Linked DNA regions of Homo sapiens: region 1 is linked to region 2. The links come from fine-mapping of genetic effects on gene expression. Tissue or cell type: whole blood. Region 2 holds a variant in brackets; the other region holds the start of a gene. All regions are shown on one strand. Distances are between the middles of the regions.

The links. PIP is the estimated chance that this variant, and not a neighbour inherited with it, causes the effect.
Region 1: it holds the start of PNOC, and the variant in region 2 is fine-mapped to the expression of PNOC in whole blood (TOPMed, PIP above 0.99).

Annotation. Positions count from the first base shown.
Region 1 is chr8:28,312,922-28,323,619 of GRCh38, forward strand. It overlaps PNOC (prepronociceptin), which reads left to right and starts at 4,347. Exons shown (of 4, transcript NM_006228.5): 1 at 4,347-4,395. RefSeq lists enhancers at 5,340-5,852, 5,853-6,364.
Region 2 is chr8:28,332,683-28,343,380 of GRCh38, forward strand. It overlaps PNOC (prepronociceptin), which reads left to right. Exons shown (of 4, transcript NM_006228.5): 3 at 6,358-6,809; 4 at 10,260-10,669. The coding sequence ends at 6,762. Among named protein-coding and RNA genes, the nearest start is that of PNOC, 21 kb to the left of the region's middle. RefSeq lists silencers at 4,211-4,320, 6,829-6,878 and enhancers at 5,399-5,448, 5,469-5,628, 5,719-5,868, 6,549-6,618, 8,566-8,645 and 1 more. The variant G/A (reference allele first, on the strand shown) is at 6,106.

The sequences.
Region 1 (10,698 bases), 20 kb before region 2:
GTGGGACCCTGCTAACGTGGTTACTAAGGAGACCAATTGGAGGTAGGCGCCGTAATTAATCAGTAAATTCCAAGCAGCCAAATACCTGGCCAGGAGAGGCTCTTTACTCTGAGAGGGGAAAATTGGCAGGTGGGTGGAGGTGCGTTGAGCTGCACATGGGGCCCAGCTGCAGCTGCCTCCTTCCCTTGTACTTCCTCTACTGAGATATTCTGATGACAATTTTAAGAGCTTTCTCAATCTGCCTCAAAACTTACCTATCAGTACAGATTGGATTCTAATGTTTGCAGCCTCCCTGGTTGGGCCTCTATTGCAAAGAAGATGCCAAGCTGGTGTGGGCAGGAGTGAACTTCCGCCACCTCATAAGCAGAAGAAATCATTATTTTATTTTATTTTATTTTATTTTTATGAGACAAGGTCTTACTCTGTTACCCAGGCTGGAGTGCAGTGGCTCAATCATGCCTCACTGCAGCCTCAACTTCCCAGGCTCAAGTAATCCTCCCTCCTCAGCCTCCCAAGTAGCTGAGACTACAGGTGCTTACCACCACACCTGGCTAGTTTTTTATATTTTATAGAGACAGGGTCTTGCCGTGTTGCCCAGACTGGTCTTGAACTCCTGGGCTCAAGCAAACCTCCCACCTTGGCCTCCTAAAGTGCTGGGATTACAGGCATGAACCACCACGCCCAGCCAAGAATTTTATTAATTCCAAGTTCTTGTGCACACACACACACACGCATACACACACACGCGCGTGCACACACACACAAAGCAGTAGAAATAAGAACATGTGACCTTTCTTTTCCAACTATTTTAATAAATGTATCCTGCCAATCAGAAAAGCAGGGGGCAGCTTGCTGCTCTGTGACCAGTTACCATACCCAAGGGAAGCCCATGGCTCTCAAAGTGCCAAGTCTCAGTGGCTGTGTGGCAAGGGGGAAGCCCTGAAGCCATCACAAACGCCACACAGTCTGCACCATTTCTAGTCTACTTGTGCTTTTCTGAGGGGCAAGATTCTTCTACTCCCCCACCCAACAGTGGTTTTAAACTCCCTCCTGGGTTCATCCTGCCCTTCCCCATCCATCACTGGAGACAGCCTGCCACCACATGCAGCTTCATTCAACCCACCAAGAATATCCAGGTGTTGGGTTCAACTCTTCTGTCTGGTAAATGAGGAAAGAAAAGTCCAGAGAAGCTAAGTGACTTTTCACTCTTGCTCTTTCTCTTCCTCAACTGCAAGGGAAGAAAAGCATTTAGCTGCCTGAACATCCTGGGAATGACGAGGTGCTCAAAGGCAGGTGTGTTGGTTTAAGGTAATTTTCCACTGGATGTAATAGAAAATCCAACTAAATGGCTTAAATCATAGGAAGTAAAAGTTTCAAATGCCTCCAATGAATGGCTTCTGCATAGCCACCCTCTATTATCCTGGGACTTTGTAGTCTCCACCCAGCCTGGCTCTGGACAGTCTTGCAACTGGCCTTAGCCAACAAATGTAGCAAAAGCAATGGACTGCCAGCTCCATGCTTAGGTCTCAAGAGGTTCTGTGTGCTTGCGGTTGTTCCCTTGCTTGATTGTATTTGCTTGTGCTTTCACTTCAGGCTTGCCATGAGACTATGCCAGGTTAATATGCTGGAGGGATGTGAGAGACCCATGAAGGATAAGACATGTGCAAGAGAACCAAGGTCCCCAGCTGACACCCAGCCAACTTTCTGAGTCCAACTGCAGGTGCAGAAGAGAGTCAGGCTGAGACCAGAAGAACTGCCCTGCTGAGACTAGCCAAAATTCCCAATCTGTAGAATCATGAGTCAAATACGTGGTCTGTTGTTTCAAGCCTCTGGCCTTGGTGTGGCTTGTTATGCAGCAATGGGTAACTGAACCCTGACTGACATTTGAAATAAATGTTTGGGGTTTTTTTTGTTTTTTTTTTGTTTTTAAAAAAAGGTTGAAGTTTGGAGTCCAAGACTGATATGGCCATTCCATTAGTCATGGGGGACCCAAAATCCTTCCATCTTTATGTTCCATCATATTTACTCATGGCTTCCATCCTCAAAGTTGTCTTATCTCATAATCCAAGATAGCTGCTAGAGCTCCAGCCATCACATTTGTGTCCCAGGCAGGATGGAGGGAGGACAAAGAAGAGAGAGAGGCCTTCAGTGAGTTGACCCCCTTTAAAAGAGCTTTCCCAGCCAGGCTCAGTAGCTCACACCTGTAATCCCAGCACTTTGGGAGGCCGAAGTGGGCAGATCACAAGGTCAGGAGATCAAGACCATCCTGGCTAACATGGTGAAACCCCGTCTCTACTAAAAAAAAATACAAAAAAAAAATTAGCCAGGCATGGTGGCAGGTGCCTGTAGTCCCAGCTACTCAGGAGGCTGAGGCAGGAGAATGGCATGAACCTGGGAGGCAGAGCTTGCAGTGAGCTGAGTTGGCGCCACTGCACTCCAGCCTGGGCGACAGAGCAAGACTCCGTCTAAAAAAAAAAAAAAAAAAGCTTTCCTGGAAACCCCACCCAAGGACCTGCAGCTTAATGCTCATTGGCAACCCTTGGTCAATGGGAAATGTAGTCTTTTAGCTAAGTGCATTGATGCCTGGAATAAAATCAAGGGTACCGTTTAGTAAGGAAGAACAGGGAAATGGGGATTGGGTAGGCAGCCTGCAATATCTGCCACATCATGTATGAAATCAGGTTCCAGGCCTGAGACACTGAAGTACATCAGGATGCAAAAGTGACCCCGTGTCAGTCAGTGAACATGCTGGTTTCCCAAAGAGTCCAAAATGGTAGCTGCGACCTGCAGTGTAAGGTTTGGGCAACAGAGATCTAAGTGAAGAATCATGAGTATGCTGGTCTCCTGAGCCCTTTTGCTGTGAACACAGACGGAAGGGAAATTTTATTCTCAGAACCTGTTGCTCTTAACCTGAGCAGATGTTTGCTGTCTTTTTCCTATTTTCTTTTTATGGAGATGTAATTCCCATAACATAAAATGCACCATTTTAAAGCATACAATTTGGTGGGTTTTAGTATTCTTGCTATGTTGTGCAACCATCACCTCAGTCTAAATCCAGAACATTTCCATTACCCCAAAAAGAAACCCTATACCATTTGCAGTCAGGGCAGATGCTTCCCTCAATCCTTCTCCACCCAGTCCTGGGTAGACCAGAGAGCTGGACTTAACCACATGAATGAGTGCTTGAGCTCCTTGGATGACATAGGTTCAAACCCTGGGATTCTGGAATATTTTAGACCCTCTTAGGAAAACCAAGGACAGGGTCATGGTGAAATTCACCTAAGGTAAGGAAACGTGGGGTCCACAAGGATGCTAAACCCTCAAGCCTGTGCCTTCAGCCTGTGAGCTCCTTTCCTGCAGCCCACAACCCCCGGCGGCTGTAGAAGACAAAGAGGCTCTGCAGTAAGGGACAGGGAAGCTTCCAGAGCTTCTGAGCCTCCAGGGCCCTCGGTAGTGATGCCCTAAGTTGCAGAAGCTTTAAAAGCTCTCTGTTGTGACACCAGACACTGATATGGGATTTCTACATCCAGGTGGTACTAATCAGTGTGAAAAGCGGGCTGAGAGGAGAGGGAGGATGCAGCACATTCATTAAGGGCCTCGTGTGTTGTAGATTCAAACAGAATCTCCTTTTTCTACTCACAACCATCCTGGGCAGTATTAGACTCATTTTCCGGAAGGAGGACTTGAGGTTCACAAAGAGATGTGCCTTGCTCTGACTGTACAGCCGAATTTCAGACACTTCCATCTGAGCCTCGAGTCTCAGCATTCTCCATTGCACCATGCTGTGGGCACCTGTGGAAATGCCTCCTGACCTGGCCCAGGGCAGGTGCAGCCACCTCTTGAGTGGCCTAGTTAGGGGCAATGACATTAGGTCAGGGCTTGGCTTAGCTCAGCCCTGGGCTCCTCCGAGTCGGTAGGAGCTTGGCATGAGCTCCCCTCCCTTCTGCCTGCCTCCTATTCTTCACTCCTCAGGCAAAAAGGTTGCTCAAGGAGACTCCAGGATTTGGGGTCTGCCTCGTCACTGTCACCAGGAGGCTTTTTTTCTGACTTGCCAGAGCTCCCCATCAGTCCTCACAGAGCCTCTGGAAGCACAGGGAAGGCAGCTGTGGGATCCTGGCTGAACAGAGTCCAGGTGAAGCAGGCTTGAGAATGGATTGATGGGGAGGTGGGGATGTCACAGGTCTGATGGCAGAGCCGGGGGAAGGGAACAGCCAGGAAGGCTTGCAGGTTCTGCTGTTTGGTTGCTGAAGGGGGTCAGTGTGTGTATGTGTCATGGAGGTGGGCAGGGAAGGGGAGGGCTGTGCGTGGGGGAGAGGATATATATGCTGGTGTGGCTGAGAAAGCGGAACCGAGCCTCGCATCCATCGGAGGGAGCCGGGGACTGACAGCTCTCAGGTAGGCAACTGCACGGGGCCCCCAGCCCGACCGCGACTAACTGGACTAACTGCGTGGAGCTCCGGGAGGGCAGGGCCACCAGGGGCTGGCTCCTCGGCCTCTCTCCTTTGTCCAGTGTGGATGCTGCTGGCCTCTTGCGAGATGGTTTCTTCATTCATCTCCTTTGTAGCGCTTGGATGGTGGGGAACGGGGGAGGGCTGAGTCTCTTTTTTAACCTCAGACAGACGCAGAAGCAGAAAGAGGGGAACTTGGAAATGAGGAAAAGTTTTGCTTCCCCAGCTGTGGCCCCTACGTGGTTGTTGCTCTGTGTCGAGAGGAGGCTGCTGGAGGAGTGAGGCCAGAGGAGGGGCAGGCACTTGGGAGGGGGTTTGCCTTCCACGGGGCGGCCCCCAGGAAGACCCTGGCCCCCTCATGAGGGTTTCCTCTCAGTGGCTTCCTTTCCTCTCAGATGCGGTGCGCAGGCTGCTTCTCCGCCTATCACTGAACTTGATGCCATCCAGATGGGAGTTTTTAATCCGGAGGGAGCCCTTCTCCCTTCTGCCCCCAGCAGAAATTGCTACAAATAATGGGGAAGCGCCAGATCTGGGGAGTGTGCTTCACCTGTATACACACACTGCTGAGCGCCACGGCGTGTGAATTCCAGAGAGCATTTCTACGGGCGTGACCTTGGTCTCCCAGAACCCGATTCATTTAGAGGGCTCTTCTCTTGCTTGGCATCCCTCTCCCCCTGCCCATCTCCCCCACCTAAAGGTCTTTGCCCAGGTCATGCAGAATACTCCGTTCATAGTCACCGCATCCCAACTCTCGAGGCTCTCTCAGCCACCTTCTTTCTTCCTCCTCTCTTTGTGCATCTCTCTCCCTCGAGTCTTGCTTCCCCGGCTTCACTACCCAGCCCCTCCTCCCCGAATCTCGCTCTGAACATGGGCAAGTTCTGGGGGAATTTCAAGTAAGGCAGGATGATTCGGGAAATGGACTATTTAAAGCAAGCTGCTTTGGACTTGAATACCCCCATCCTGCGCTTAAACATCTGTGTTTAGCTTCCTCAAGCAGCCCATAATTGCCCCAATTATAACCAATAACATTGTTCGGCAGACTAACAAAAGATGAGCTTTGCACGGCATTCGCCAGCAAGCCCAAACCAGAGTTTTCAACATAGATGGGAAAAGTAACTGCCTGGCTTCTTATCAAAACCTCCCAAAGCAAATACTGCTCTTTTTCGCTGCTTGTGGGTGGCTACTGCATGCAGCCTCTTTTTTTCTCATTTGTAAAGTGTGGCAGGGAAATATTCTACAAGCTTACACTGAGGCTATGTTACCTTTAACAAAAAGGATTCGTGCTCCTTTGGGCTTGCTGAGTCTTCTGCAGAGGAGGGTCCCTGGAAAACCCATCCCCAACCATCACCACCTCTGTAAAAGCATGTGCCGCCTGGTGCTGCCTGGCGAGGGCGCTGTGGTACAGCCTCGGGTCATTTTGAGGGCGCAGTTTTGTTGCGCACAGGGCAGCAGCCCCTGCTTTATCAGCTGAAGGCTGAGAGTACTTACGGATTTGTAAAATGCAGGCGAGTTTGCATTGTCAGTGAAGGGAGTGATTGCAGGATTAGGCTCAAACCTGTGCTCCCTGGAGCCTATGACAAGAGCTGTCACTAAGCTATCCTGTATTCAATCAATCAGGTAGTTACCGTCTACACTCCACCAGGCAGGGAGGCTTGCAGGGGCTCTAGTAGATTCAGCAGAGGTGATAATAACAGCACTTTACATTTGTACAACGATTTAGGCGCTTTCACACCTATTATCCCAGCAACAGCCCTGTGAGGTGGTGCCATTATCTCGGTGTTGCAGTTGGAGAAACTGAAACTGAGAGATTAAATGATTTATTCAGTACATGGCAGGGTCAGGACTGAGCCAAGGCATTGTGGCTCCAGTTCATCTCCCCGTTACGGTCAGGGGTGCTTATGAACTCATAGTGGGGTCGGGGGTAGAGGAGAGACGTAACACAAACATGAGAAACAATTAGAGGACCATGCAAGGCAGGGTGTAATTCAGTCCTAAATCACATAATCCAGAGAGCAAGTGCTAGAAGAATTCGGGAGAAGGAGCATTTCCTCCAGGCATTCCTGGGATCCTACCAAGTGAGAAGGCAGGTGGAATTTGGATGGGTGAAGGGCTTTGAAGAGGGAGGCAGCAGCCAGGTCAAACACATAAAATGAGGGCAAAGGAATTAACATTTCTTGAAACCCACTCTGTGCCAGGCAGTGAGCTAAGCTTGTCTACGTGCTTATTTCATGCTAATACACACATGCACATATGCACACTGGTAGGAATGGGAAGTTTCAGGTGAGCGTTCTCTACTTGCACTGACACGGTTCAGTGATCCCTCATTTCTCCATCCAGCTCCACAGCTCCCAAAGCCCACGAAGGAAGCTTTGAAATATCTTGCATTCCGAGTCTGGGTGGAGCTACTCCTCAGATATCTTAGGAAAGGGACGGGCCCTTCTCAGAAAACGGGAGCCGTCCTGACAATGAGTGGCTGGCAGTGGCTTGAATTGCTGGGCAGTCATGAAGCAAACTGGATTTTCTAAACGCCTTTATTTAAATCCCACAGTCGAACATAAAGTTTTCCATCTAATCACAAACTAGTCATGAGATTTGGAGCACATCGATTTCAGGGGCAAGCCAGTTTTCTGGGCATCTCCCTGGATAGGCTACAATTAGTTTCAGTCTCAATTTTCCACGATCCTGTGGGGTTTTTTTTGTTTGTTTCTTTCTTTCTTTCTTTCTTTTTTTTTTTTTTTTTTTTTTTTTTTTTCAAAATACTGGCAGCTGCTTCAACATTGCAGAAGCACAAAATCATCAGCCCGGGGGCCCAGCCTGGCAGGTGGAGTAGATAGCATGCCTCACCATGCACCCCAGCTCTGCCATCCCACAGTGGCTCAGATCCAACCTCCCCTCTTTCCACACTGGCCTGCAATCTTCCCCCCACCCTCCTTCCCCATTCATCCTTTCATTCATTCGGCCAAGGAACGTGTGTGGGGTTCCTGATAGGAGCCACACAGAGCAAGTGCCAGGAGCACAGGGTGGCCAGAGCGCTGGCTTCCTCCAAACTCACAATGGGCTTCAGGAGACTGAGACTTTTGTTTTTATCTTACCTTTCTTAATTTGCATTTTAGTGGATTTTATAATGTATGTAACTTATAAATAAATTAGGAATGTGTACTCAAAATCGACTGCTAGGGGTACAAAGTTAAAGAAGTTTGGCCGGGCGCAGTGGCTCATGCCTGTAATCCCAGCACTTTGGGAGGCCGAGGTGGGCAGATCACAAGGTCAGGAGATCAAGACCATCCCGGCTAACACGGTGAAACCCCGTCTCTACTAAAAATACAAAAAAATTCTCTGGGCGTGGCGGTGGGCGCCTGTAGTCCCAGCTACTCGGGAGGCTGAGGCAGGAGAATGGCGTGAACTCGGGAGGTGGAGGTTGCGGTGAGCCGAGATCACACCACTGCACTCCTGCCTGGGTGACAGAGCGAGACTCCATCTCAAAAAAAAAAAAAAAAAAGAAGAAGAAGTTTGAAGATTGTTGTCCTAGATTCATTGCTGTTTCTCTGTGTTTTCCAATATTTTAGAAAAGAACACCGAATGATTTTATTACATAAAAGTAAATAAAAGCTTTTCTTTCTTTCTTTTTGAGTTGGAGGTCTTGCTATATTGCCCAGGCAGGTCTTTTGTTGTTGTTGTTGTTGTTTACAGACAGGGTCTCACTCTGTCACCCACACTGGAGTGCAGTGGCACAATCATAGCTCACTGCAGACTCAACCTCCTGGGCCCAAGCTATCCTCCTGCCTCAACCTTCTGAATAGCTAAGACTGCAGATGTGCACCACCACACCTAGCTAAATTTTTTTTTTTTTTTTTTTTTGTAGAGATAGGTGTCTTACTATGTTCCCCAAGCTGGTCTCAAACTCCTGGGCTCAAGCGTCCTAAGTTGCTGGGATTGCAGTTGCATGCCAATACACCCAGCTAAAAGTAAATAAAAGCTTTCCAAAATCTATTTAAATTATGTTGCCAGTATATGTGGGAGTGTGGCCCAGAACCAGGAAGATGGGAGTTGAGAGCTACCTTCCCACCTGCAGTAGCCCTGAACGTGTGTCTTTTGCCCCCTCCACACTCTTTCTATGGCTTTCCTCATGCTGCCCGGAAGCTACTTCCCCATAAAGCCTTCATCTCCTTTTCCTCTTCCCTTCTTCCTTCCATCCTTACTTCCAGGAAAGGACAAATATCTGGCCATTCATAAAATCAGAGAATATCAACCATCTCATCTAACTGCCTCTTCTTATAGAGGGAAAAGCTGAGGCCCAGAGAGAAAAGGTCTTGCTTAAAATCCCACAGGTAACGACAGAGCCAGACTAGAAGCCAGGACTCTTGTTTCTGAGCACAGCTCTCACGCGTTCATTTCTCTCCAGCCTGGGGAATGCTTGACCTGTGCTGGGCTGGGCAATTGTTCTTTCCTCCACCTCCTCTATGCCGTCCCCCTCTTTCCAGGTGGAAATTTAGATGAGAGGAGAGACACTTGAAGTGTAATTGTATCAGCCAGAAGAGGAAAAGAAACTAAAGCAGCCTCTCTCCATAATAGCTGGTAAACAAGCATAAGCTCCATTGTAGGAGTCTTATCTGCAATGGGTCTAAGAAATGGGGCATCGGGAAGACCCACCTATCTTCTGATGGACATGCAGCTGGTGCATAATGAAGGATCCCTGTGTGGACTGGAGAGAAGCCACCATAAAGAGGTTGTCATCAGCCCCGGCACAGTGGCTCATGCCTGTAATCCCAGCACCTTAGGGAGGCTGAGGCGGGAGGATCATTCGAGGTCAGGAGTTTGAGACCAGACTGACCAACGTGGTGAAACCCCGTCTCTACTAAAAATACAAAAAAAATTAGCCAGGCATGGTGGCGGGCACCTGTAATCCCAGCTACTCAGGAGGCTGAGGCGGGAGAATCATTTGAACCCAGGAGGCAGAGTTTGCAGTAAGCCAAGATAGCGCCACTGAACTCCAGCCTGGGCAACAGAGCGAGACTCCATCTCCAAAAAATAAAAAATAAGAAGTAAATAAAAAAGGTTGTCATCAGACAGGGAGTACAGACTTCAGGACAAGAGGAAGCCCTACATGAAGACAGCTGCTGGGATCACTGACAGGCAGGGTCAGACATAAGTCCCAGCTCTGCCACTTCAAGTTACATCAGCTCCTCAAGCCTCAATCTGCTCAACTATAAAATGGGGATGATAGCACTTACCCCATAGGGTGATGCTTATAAAGCAATTAGCGCAAAGCCTGGCTCATAGTGCTCTAAAGTCATAGCAATATGATTGCTATGAAATGCAAATAGATTCCACCGCAATGAGATGCCATCAGAATCTGGCAATCTTCCAAAAGCAGAAACAGTGTGTAAAGTTGATGGTTTCCCAGAACACATGGTTTGAAGTCAACACACCTGAGTTTAAGTCCTGGCTCTGCTACTTATAAACCGGATGATCCTAGTCAACTTGCTTAACCTCTAAGAGTTTATGTTCATTTTAAAAGGTGGGTTGATATTAACCCTAGATTACAGGGTTGTATAATATATGAATATAAAATTTTTTGGTAACCTGTCAAGAATATTCTCTACATGTGGTTGATGAAAAGGATGGAGGTGTATCTGCCTCTAGCAAGAGCAGTCCCCTCTTCTCTGCTGGCAGCATCAAAATTACAGGACTTCGAATAGGTCATAAGACAAAACTCAATTAGGGTCCAGCTTCGGCTAAAGCTGCATATGTGATTCTCCAAACAGATAAGCAACTAATTATATTGCCCTTGGAAGCAAGATTACATGCAAATCGATTAAGGCCAAGCCATAGTGGTATTTTATCTTTATAAACAGCAAGGCACAATTAAATTTATGAGGTGTCATTACCAAAAGAAAAGGCAATTCAACATTTCTTTATTCAATATGAGACGCTCAGAATATAGTATTGCCACATAGAAGTATTAGCTGAGCTTGGCTCACGAAGTGAAATACAAGCCATGGAAAATTCAGCCTACTCAGGTAACTTTTGATTTACTGATGTTTGCTATGGTTGTATAAAAATAGCAACAACCTGTCACTATTCCCATTTCACAGTTGAGAAGACTGAGGCTCACAGAAGTGAAATAATTTGCACACAGTCCCACCGTTACAAAGTATAAAGTTTCAGCATCAATGTAACAACAAACCTGTTATTATCCCCACTTTGTAGTTGAAAGGACTGACCATCTCAGGACTTGTCTGCAGTCACA
Region 2 (10,698 bases):
GCTCACACCTGTAATCCCAGCATTTTGGGAGGCTGAGGCAGGTGGATCACTTGAGGCCAGCAGTTCTAGACCAGCCTGGCCAACAAGGCGAAACCCTGTCTCTACTAAAAATACAAAAATTAGCTGGGCATGGTGATGCATGCCTGTAATCCCAGCTACTCAGGAGGCTGAGGCAGAAGAATCACTTAAACCCAAAAGGCAGAGATTTCAGTGAGCTGAGATCATGCTACTGCACTCCAGCCTGGGGGACAAAGTAAGACTCTGTCTCAATCAATCAATAAAATTCCCTAAAATTCTACTGCAAAACGAGCTACCTTCTGGTAGTTCTTTCTATCTTCATGAGATGAAAATTCTAATGAGGTGACTTGCAGTAGGAGTTCCTTATATGTTTGTCTTCTATGCTCATCTGCTGTATTTGTCCTCAGATATTCTAGCAGGACCTCACAAAGCAAATAGCTCCCAAATGTCTCTTGGTCAGAAGTGGTGTGACTCTTTAGTGGCAGAAACTTGACCACCTTTGTGAGCTGCTCCTTTCATCCCCAATGGGTTCATATGCCTGTTTCCCACTTTGTACCCTAATCTTTGAGCCCAGACACCCAAAAGGCCATTTGTTCACTTTCCCCATAAGCCCAGCTTTACAGATGAATTTGGCAGCCATCTGAGACTCCAGATGCCCATACGCATTCTGGCTTAATATAGCAATGCCATCAGCGTGGGCTGCCAAAACGTGTCCAGCTCACTTAATAAGCCATTAACCCATCTCTGGAAAAAGGCTGGTGAGTTCCCCGCACCAGAGGGTCAGGCATTAAGCTCCTATGCCCATCTGGTGCTACAAATGCGTTGTGAATTTAGCTTCCTCCTATTTGCCCAAAACCCTCTCCTAAGTCAAGAGTTGAGATGATTTTGTTAGCATCTAATTTATCTAACAGTGCATCAAGTCTGGGTATGGACTGTGGCATCTGGTTTGATCACACAATTTCATTTTCTCTGACTGACACAAAATCTAATTACTATCTGGGCTTGGAAACCCAGGGGCTCACAGAAGATCTAAGCACCTCCAAGTTTAACAACTCTTCCACTTGTTTCCATAAACTGACGGAGCAGAAAAATTCAACAAGCAGTTTGGGGCTCCTGTTCTGCAAGGATTGGGCCAAGCATGCTCAAAAGTCAGATCCAGCTCCCCCACTCTACCCTTCTATGACTTTCCCAGTGCTAGCCACACTTCTCTGCATCCCTGTTGACTTTGTAGAGCAGAGTTTCTCAAACTTGCCACTATGGGCACTTTTGACTGGGGAATTATTTGTTGTGGGGGTTGTCCTGGGCACTTTAGGATGTTTACTGGCATCCCTGGCCTCTAGGTGCCAGTAACACACACACACACACACACACACACACACACACACACACCAGTTCTGACAACCAACAATGTCTCCAGAGATTGCCAAATGGCCCCTTAGTGGGCAAAATCACTCCCAGTTGAGATCCACGCCTGTAGAGTACTAACTCGACAGGATTCTGATCTGAAAGAATATACTACACATTGATTCTAGCTGGTTTTCTTCCAAGTATTTCAGGAGCAGGCTAAGTACAGACCCAGGTGACTCTTTCTCTGTAGGAGTCTTTAACCACCGTGTTCTGTGATGGCTTCTTCCTCCTCAGAGCAAGTTCCAAAACAGGATTTCTCCAGGTATCATCCAGTCTCAGAATCACCTGAGCTATTGCTAAAAATACAAATTTCTGGGCCCCACCCTTGACTTAGTGGATCAGAATCTCCAATGCTTTAGGCTAAAAATTTGCATTCTAACAAACTCCAGTAGCATTTTTTTTTCTTTGAGACAGTCCCGTTCTGTCACCAAGGCTGGAGTGCAGTACAGCAATCTCAGCTCACTGCAGCCTTGACTTCCCAGGCCCAAGCAATCCTCTCACCTCAGCCTCCCAAGTAGCTAGAACTGTAGGCATGCACCACCACACCCCACTAACATTTTTATTTTTGTAGAGCTGAGGTCTCCCTATGTTGCCCAGGCTGCTCTCAAACTCCTGGGCTCAAAGGCGCCTCCCTCCTTGGCCTCCTAAAGTACTGGGATTATAGGCGGGAGCCACCATGCCCAGCACAGTAGCAATTTTTATAGAATACTCCAGAAGTTTGCAACTTCATTGTTCTTAAGGCAGCCCTCCCTATCTATGGAAGTTACCTATCATTTTTTATAATCAGTAACATTGCAGGTGTGAAAAAGTAGTTCCCTTCCTCTCCCTGCTGAGGTCATTCTGTCAGCAACTAGGTTCCATGTGTTAAGCATCTCTGAGCAAAAGCTAAATGAAAAAGCCATGCTCAGAAAAACCACGGCGTGAGCATCACTAGGGGCCAGTGTCACCTCCTGTGACTAATAGGTGGACTTGGACAGGTTGCTTCTTGGAAACCCTGCCAGGGAAGGAAAGGGACACTCCTGTCAGACCTAGTCCCTGCCTGTCCCTTCCAGTCCAGTGGAACATAGGCAATACTCCCATCCAAACCTCAGCTCTTGGTCTCATAGAATCCTTCTTCTTGCATTAATTGCCACCAATTCATATTGCAAGCACACAGAGGTAGCTGAGTAGATGTCTTGGACTGGGCCACAAGGCATCTTTGAGTTCTTGTTCAGGTTATACTGTTATCTAACCGTGTTGTTTTGGACACATTACTCAACCACATCATAAAATGCAAAGGTTGAATTATATTCATGATTTGCAAACCCAGGCAAATATCGGAATTACCTGAACTTTGTAAAATTAAGTTTTTAATTCCTTTGTAAAAATAAGTTTTAATCCCTGCTTCTATTCTTCAGAGATTTAGTTGAGTCTTGAAATTCTGTTTTGTTTTTTTCTGAGTAGGAGTTTCACTCTTGTTGCCCAGGCTGGAGTGCAGTGGTACAGTCTCGGTTCACCACAACCTCCGCCTCCCAGGTTGAAGCGATTCTCCTGCCTCAGCCTCCTGAGTAGCTGGGATTACAGGCATGCACCACCACGCCCAGCTTATTTTTTGTATTTTAAGTAGAGACAGGGTTTCTCCATGTTGGTCTGGCTGGTCTCAAACTCCCAACCTCAGATGATCCGCCCGCCTCAGCCTCCCAAAGTGCTGGGATTATAGGCATGAGCCACTGCGCCTAGCCGAAATTCTGTTTTTAAAAGCTCTGCAGGTGATTGGGACTCACATCCAGGTGTGGGACCCTTTAGACCAGGTGTGGGCTCTGTCTCCAAAGGAAAAAAAAAAAAGAATAAAAGAATCCTGGAATCCTGGACTAATGGGACAGATGAGTAATCAGATAAGCAAAGGGTGGCAGCAGGGTGACAGGAGCTGCCTGCAACAGTGCGCATGCTAAGCACTAGGGGCGTCCCAGTCCTGGTTGCAACTAGCTGCGACCCCTGTTCTTCCAGGGACTCTTTCTCACCTCTTTTCATTCCCTTCTTTTATACTCTTAGCTAAATATAGAGTGACTTCTTGATTAATTCATCTCAGTTCAACTAACCTCTACTGGAACCCTACTCTTTACTGGAAGGAGAAGATTCCTGCAAGGGATTCACACATGAGTAAGATGTGGTCCCTAACTTGTCATATTCCGCCTTAGAAGGTATTGCAATTTAATGACATAAAGCATTAAAATTTCCACAAGAGGAATACAAAGTTCTGTGGGAAGACAGAGGCAGGAGAGAGTGATTCTTGCCAGGGAACTAGAAGTTATCAGAGAGGGGCAGCACTGGAGCTTGTCTGGGTCCCAAAGGATGGATGGAAGGATGCAAGGAGGTCATTGCATCCAAGGGACAGAGAGAAAGGCATGCAGGTGCGAGGAGCTTTGCGGTGTTTAAGGCACTAGGAACAGCCTCATAGGCCTCAAGGGGTGTGTGATGAAGAATCGGAAATAAGACCTAGATGGTGGGCTGGACCAGGTGGTAGAGGGATTTGAATGCTTTGCTCAAGAGTTTGGAGCTGTTTTATGGATATGATAAACAATTAGACAGCTGTGAGCAAGGTAATGACATGATTAGTTACTCTTCAGGAAGAGTATCCTGCCAGGGGTACCACACTGATGACAGTGGCAAAGACCAGAGATGCGGAGATCAGTTAGGGACCCACTTCACCTAAGAGGCACTTAGGCGGTGGTAGAGGGAGTGGGAGGAGGGGCAGAACTGTAGACTGGCAGGATGGGGGCAGTGAGAGAGGAGGAAAAGATATGCCCAGGGTTTGAAATCTGAGTCAACTGGGGAGTGAGGTGCCACTCAGAGACAGGGACCGAGAGGCCAAGCAGAAGGACAAATATATCAGATAAGAATGAAATTCACCTGCTAGTAACAAACATCTAAAGTGACAGCGGCTGAAATCAATAGATTCAGTTCCTCACAAGGAGTGAGAAGGGAACAGCCCAGGGCTGCAGTGGCAGCTCCAGTCTCCTCTCTCTTCTCTGCCAGTCGGCAGCTTCTAGCCCATGACTCCCATCCTTTGAGTCGCTGCATGGTTTCTAGATGGCAAACACAATGTCAGCCCAAATGTCCACATTCCAAACAGAAAGTTGGAGGAAGAGGAAAACGGAATGTTCTTCCCACTTAAGTCAGTCTCCTACTTTCTTGGAAACCCCATCTGATGCCCGATCACCTTTTTTTTCTTTTTAGGCAAAGTCTCACTCTGTCACCCAGGCTGGAGTGCAGTGACATGATAGCTCACCGCAACCTCCGCCTCCCAGGTTCAAGCAACTCTTTTGCTTCAGCCTCCCCAGTAGCTGGGATTACAGGCAGCCATCACCACACCCGTCTAATTTTTGTATTTTTAGCAGAGATGGGTTTTTGCCATGTTGGCCAGGCTGGTCTCAAACTCCTGGCCTCAAGTGATCCGCCTGCTTTGGCCTCCCAAAGTTCTGGGATTACGTTTCCTTTTTTTTTTTTTTTTTTTGAGACGGAGTCTCGTTCTGTCGCCCAGCGTCAAGTGCAGTGGCACGATCTCGGTTCACTGCAAGCTCCGCCTCCCGGGTTCACGCCATTCTCCTGCTTCAGCCTCCTGAGTAGCTGGGACTACAGGCGCCCGCCACCACGCCCAGCTAATTTTTTTTTTTTTTTGTATTTTTAGTAGAGATGGGGTTTCACCATGTTAGCCAGGATGGTCTCGATCTCCTGACCTCGTGATCCACCCGCCTCGGCCTCCCAAAGTGCTGGGATTACAGGCGTGCGCCACCGCACCCGGCCTACACTTCCATTTTTATGTCGTCAGCTACTTATGGCTCCAAGGAAGCTTGGGAAACATATACGTTGCCTTTAGGAATAAAACAGTGTTCTGTGCATAAGGAGAAGGGGAGATGAATACGGGCCAGTTGCAGCCTCTGCCCCAGAAGGTGACCTGGAAGCCAGGCAGGAGCTCCACGCTATGATGAGGAGCTCTGCCTACTGACTCACAGCAGTAAGGTCAGGTTGAAGTGGGGTTTCCAGCCGGCTAAGGCCAGAAACCTGGACTGAAATTAGGGGTGAAGCCAAAACAGCAAATAGGAAGAAAAGCTGGGGGCAGAGGCTTCCAGGAGACCCAATCAGAACCAAGAACGTGGGAGGTGGGGGGCCAAGGTCAGAACCAGCCAAGAGGGGCTGGAGAAACATCGTGGTCCAGCTGGTGGCTAGAAGTCAGGGTTGGCAGGAGAGGCAGAGCAGAGTGTTCCTAGGAGCCGAGCGGGTCTGCTGGGCTCTGGTCTGATGATGGCATCTCTCCCCACACCTGGAACTGGATCACAGGTTCAGCCCCGCACGTCCAGCCGGCCTACCACCCCACAGGGTCTTGACCCCATTTGCTATAAATGATACACAGATAGTGACGACTGCTGTACGCGGGATGAAAAATTAACAACACCTAGGTAGATCTTTACATGGTGACCTTAAAATAAACCTGCAGATTTGACTACATACTTTCACATCCCCAATTTCTTTAACCCATGTGACCTCCCACAAGCCTGAAGAGAGAACAAAATAAAATTCTTTATGGGTGACAGTCATGAGCTGTGCTTGGCTCCAAAAACCCGACTAAAGATGTAACAAGGTGCGGTGTTGGGCGCATTTATCCTGTGTTAACTTCCTATGTTAACGTGCTGTGACACCAGA[G/A]GTAAGTTACGCTCACCTCTCTGAGCCCTGGTTTCTTTGTAAAATGATGGAGCTGGGTCAGATGATTCTCTGTTTGTTTCCAATTCTGAAATTCTACGAACCTAAAACCTGTGTAAAACTGCTCCACGTTACTTGATAACTTAGATGCTTCAGAAGCACTTGCACTGGTGCAGTGGGCCAGATCTCCTCCCTCGCCCTGGATTAACAGAGGTCCTTGTTCCTTCTCCCCTCCTCTCACCCGTATCTTTGCAGGTGTGCATCCTCGAGTGTGAAGAGAAGGTCTTCCCCAGCCCCCTCTGGACTCCATGCACCAAGGTCATGGCCAGGAGCTCTTGGCAGCTCAGCCCTGCCGCCCCAGAGCATGTGGCGGCTGCTCTCTACCAGCCGAGAGCTTCGGAGATGCAGCATCTGCGGCGAATGCCCCGAGTCCGGAGCTTGTTCCAGGAGCAGGAAGAGCCCGAGCCTGGCATGGAGGAGGCTGGTGAGATGGAGCAGAAGCAGCTGCAGAAGAGATTTGGGGGCTTCACCGGGGCCCGGAAGTCGGCCAGGAAGTTGGCCAATCAGAAGCGGTTCAGTGAGTTTATGAGGCAATACTTGGTCCTGAGCATGCAGTCCAGCCAGCGCCGGCGCACCCTGCACCAGAATGGTAATGTGTAGCCGGAAGGGGCGCTCCTCCCAGCTGTACCGGCCACTGCAACCCATGAGTGAGTTGGGCACCAATAAGCTGGGGGCAAGGAGAGACCTCACACACCAACTGTCTTAGCCTTGCTCCCAGGCCTAGAAGCACATTCATCTCCCCGCCCCCTCCCCACTCCACACACACACACCCCGCAAGGAGTCCAGCCCACCCTTTCTCTAGGCAGCAGATTTTCCTATGATTGCACCTTGAAGCTGACCACTTCCGGCTAGAGACTGGTTACCATGGGGATAATAGTAGTATGTTAAGATAACTAATTCCTCTATCACTCCCCAGGAGCTTAGTTACTATGGGGACAGTTAAGTGGACCAATACGCCCATCCAGTTGCCACAGCAACCAGTCAGCTCACCTTTCCTCGAGATTGTCTCTCTAAACACCAAGAGTGGGACCTACTCTTAGCCATTAGCAGAGTCCAATTACCACAGCTATGATGGTGCTATTTCATCTTCAAAGACGGCTTACCTATCCCCTCTCCTTTCCCCAGCTCTCAGGGTGCCTGGCTCCATGGAAACATTAAAGTTTCCCATTTTACCTGGACAAAGAGTTCCTGTTAAGATTAGGAGTTGTGGTTTCTGCTCTTCCTCCTTCCACAAGCCATTTGTCCATCCTGCCACCTTGCCAGAGAGGGACTGATTCCTTGTGGTCAACGGTATCATTACTGAGCAAGACGTGGAGAATTTGGTCCAATGGACCTAGTAGCTACTAGAATATGGACTAAAGGGGTTCATCTTCTTTCCTCCATTTGGCTTCTTTCCAGCGTGCCATTTTTGTTTTGGTTTTGTTTGCTTGCTTTTATTCCTCTCTTTCTTCCTTGTTCTCTCTTTCTTCTGCTCTGTTCCTATACCCACAGGCACCTTATACAAGTCCACATGTCTCATAATATACATCAAATACCCTAACTGATTGCCTGTTCATTCAAAACCCAACTTTCCTTAGGATATCAACCAATACATCACTTTGAGTGGCATTGGCAACCTAGCACAGTAGAATTTTCTGAAAATTTAGGAAACTCCCAACCATCAAGGCTATGTGCCTTAATTTGTATATGGGAATATGATCATCTGCAGAGTCCCATACGTCTCCTTAAATAGCTAAGAAACTTGCCATATTCATCCATTTTGCATTGCTACGAAGGAATACCTGAGGCTGGGTACTTCATAAACAAAGTTTATTTGGCTCACGTTCTGCAGTCTATACAAGAAGCATGGCACCCGCATCTGCTTCTGGTGAGGCCCTCGGGGAGCTTTTACTCATGGCAGAAGGCAAGGGGAGCTGGCGTGCCACATGGCAAGAGGGGGCAAGAGGGGGAAAAGGGGAGGTCCCAGCCTCTTTAACAACCAGATCTCCCACGAACTCATTACCATAGGGTGGGCACAAAGGCATTCCTGAAGGATCCACCCCCATGACCCAAACACCACCCACTAGGCCCACCTCCAACATTAGGGATCACATCTCAACATGAAATTGGAAGAGGACAAACTTCTAAACTGTATCATTGTCCTAACACAAAGAACCAGTCAGATCATCAAAATCACCCCAAAACATTACCCAAGTGGGGCTTTTCCCTGAGTCCGAGCATAAGAGAAAAATGTCTGCATGTGCTATTTTAAGTTGCGTCCCATGTGTCAGAGGTAGCCGTGTCACTAATAACCTTCCTTGATGATCTATTAGTACATATGCTAATGTTTGGTGCCCACACTTTAGCATGGAGACGGCCCCTTTGCAGGTAGGCCAACATGTTCACCACGGGCCTGTTACCAAATATGGACACGTGTATTAAGTTGTGAAGAGAAAGCTGATGTGTTTATTTTAGCAGGATGACTCATCTCCAAAGGCCCCAAATTAACCTGCACTGCTTTTGAAGTCATACTCACTCTTGGATCCTTCACAAGCCTCCTATTTCTTTCTAACACATATCTGCACAGCACCTAACAGTAAATCGTTCAGAAGTAGCATGGGTTGAATTCTTTCAAATCTTAAAGACATTCTTCTTTAAAGTGGCTCTTCAGGGACACTGAAGCTCATGTCTAATTCTGAACGATGGCAATGTTCTTTACCTAAACACAGTTGAAAATCAGGCCCATTAACAGGAATCCATTTATTTTTTAAAAAATGATTTGAGCCTCTATCCAGGCAATTGGTTTTTCTAATCTTCTATTATGCTTCCAACTGAGAGGCACTGAAACAAAGCCAGTAAGGAGCTTCTGTCTGTGGCTCTGCTCAAATGTCAAGTTCTGGATGGAAACTGGAAACATTAACCAGCTCATTTGGGTATTATTGATGACTCTCCTTTCTCCTTCTGCAACCATCTCTCTGCTTCTTTTCCCCCAACATGCACAGTTGGTGAGTTCCAATATGGATATTTATAAGTCTATAACAGCCGGCTTCAACCTTGTTTTCATCCACATACACACACCCCAACCTGCCCTACACATGATGGAGATGTCTCCATCTTGGGGGACTCTTGTTACCAATGCTGTCCTTGACTTCTAAGATACCTAATACTAATAGACATGGAGAAGGCTGGGAAGAAGTGGGGCCACCTTACACTGGAATGGGATAAAGAACCCTATTCAGGGCCGGGCGCGGTAGCTCATGCCTATAATCCCAGTGCTTTGGGATGCCGAGGCTGGTGGATCACCTGAGGTCAGAAGTTTGAGACCAGCCTGGCCAACATGGTGAAAACCCGTCTCTACTAAAAATACAAAAATTAGCCACTTAGCCGGGCGTTGTGGTGGGTGCCTGTAGTCCCAGCTACTTGGGAGGCTGAGGCAGGAGAATCGCTTGAACCCAGGAGGCGGAGGTTGCAGTGAGCCGAGATTGTGCACATTGCACTCCAGCCTGGGCAACAAGAAAGAAACCCCATCTCAAAAAAAAAAAAAAAAAAAAAAGAACACTATTCAGAAAGTGTAATGATGTCCTAGGAAGGAAAGGTGTTGGGGTGCAGGCCCACCTCTAGACAGAACTTGTCACAGCTGGTCTTAGGGTTCTGCCTTCCTTTCCCCTGACCCTATACTACCTTCCTCTTTTCTGCTACCCTTAGACTTTGACCCTTCTAGGCAATGGAAACTGAGCACATTCATTCGTGGTCAGGTTATCAGTGCCATCAGGCTCAAAGAGCACTTGCAAAGAAAAGAACTGTAAAACAAGGGCACTATTTCGCATGGGCTCCGAATACCAGCAAGAACTGTTCCCCGGGAAGGGGCTTGCCACTGTGCCTATCGAGTCACAGCCTACAGACCTCCCGTTTAGTCTATTAGTCCAGCCAGTAGACCCGGGGCTGGGGGAGCAGATGTGCGGAGATGCTGAGGACCCCTCTGGCTACGTTAGGAACGATTTACTTGGGTTGATAGCTTTTCTTTGCCTCCCTTTCACTGCTTCCGTCTCTAGGGGGAATAGAAAAGGGTCAGAAAAACCATCAGGTTTGCCATTTTTTAACCATTTCTGTCTCCCCAGGCGTCCAGGTGATCCCCCAAACAGCATGTGCTCAGCCCCAGACCTGCCGCCTGGGAATCAGGATTCCTTCTTCCCCAAGGCACTGAGCGCCTGCAGATCCCGCAGGCTTCGTTTGCCTCCAGAACCTTCCCGTCTGATTGTTCCTCCCCAGCCCCCTGGCATGTTTCACCACAACCCTGTTGCTACATCAGAGTGTATTTTTGTAATTCCTCTAGCTACCATTTCAATAGCCCCATCTCTCCTGCTCACCCGCCTCTTGCCCCTTCTAGGGGCAGGTGAAAGGAATAGGAAATTGAACCTGGGGTTTTGACTTGCCACTGCCATAACTTGTTTGTAAAAGAGCTGTTCTTTTTGACTGATTGTTTTAAACAACGATTTCTCCATTAAACTTCTACTGAGCAAATGGTTAATAAATTGGTTTGCTGTTTTTAAGTGAAGT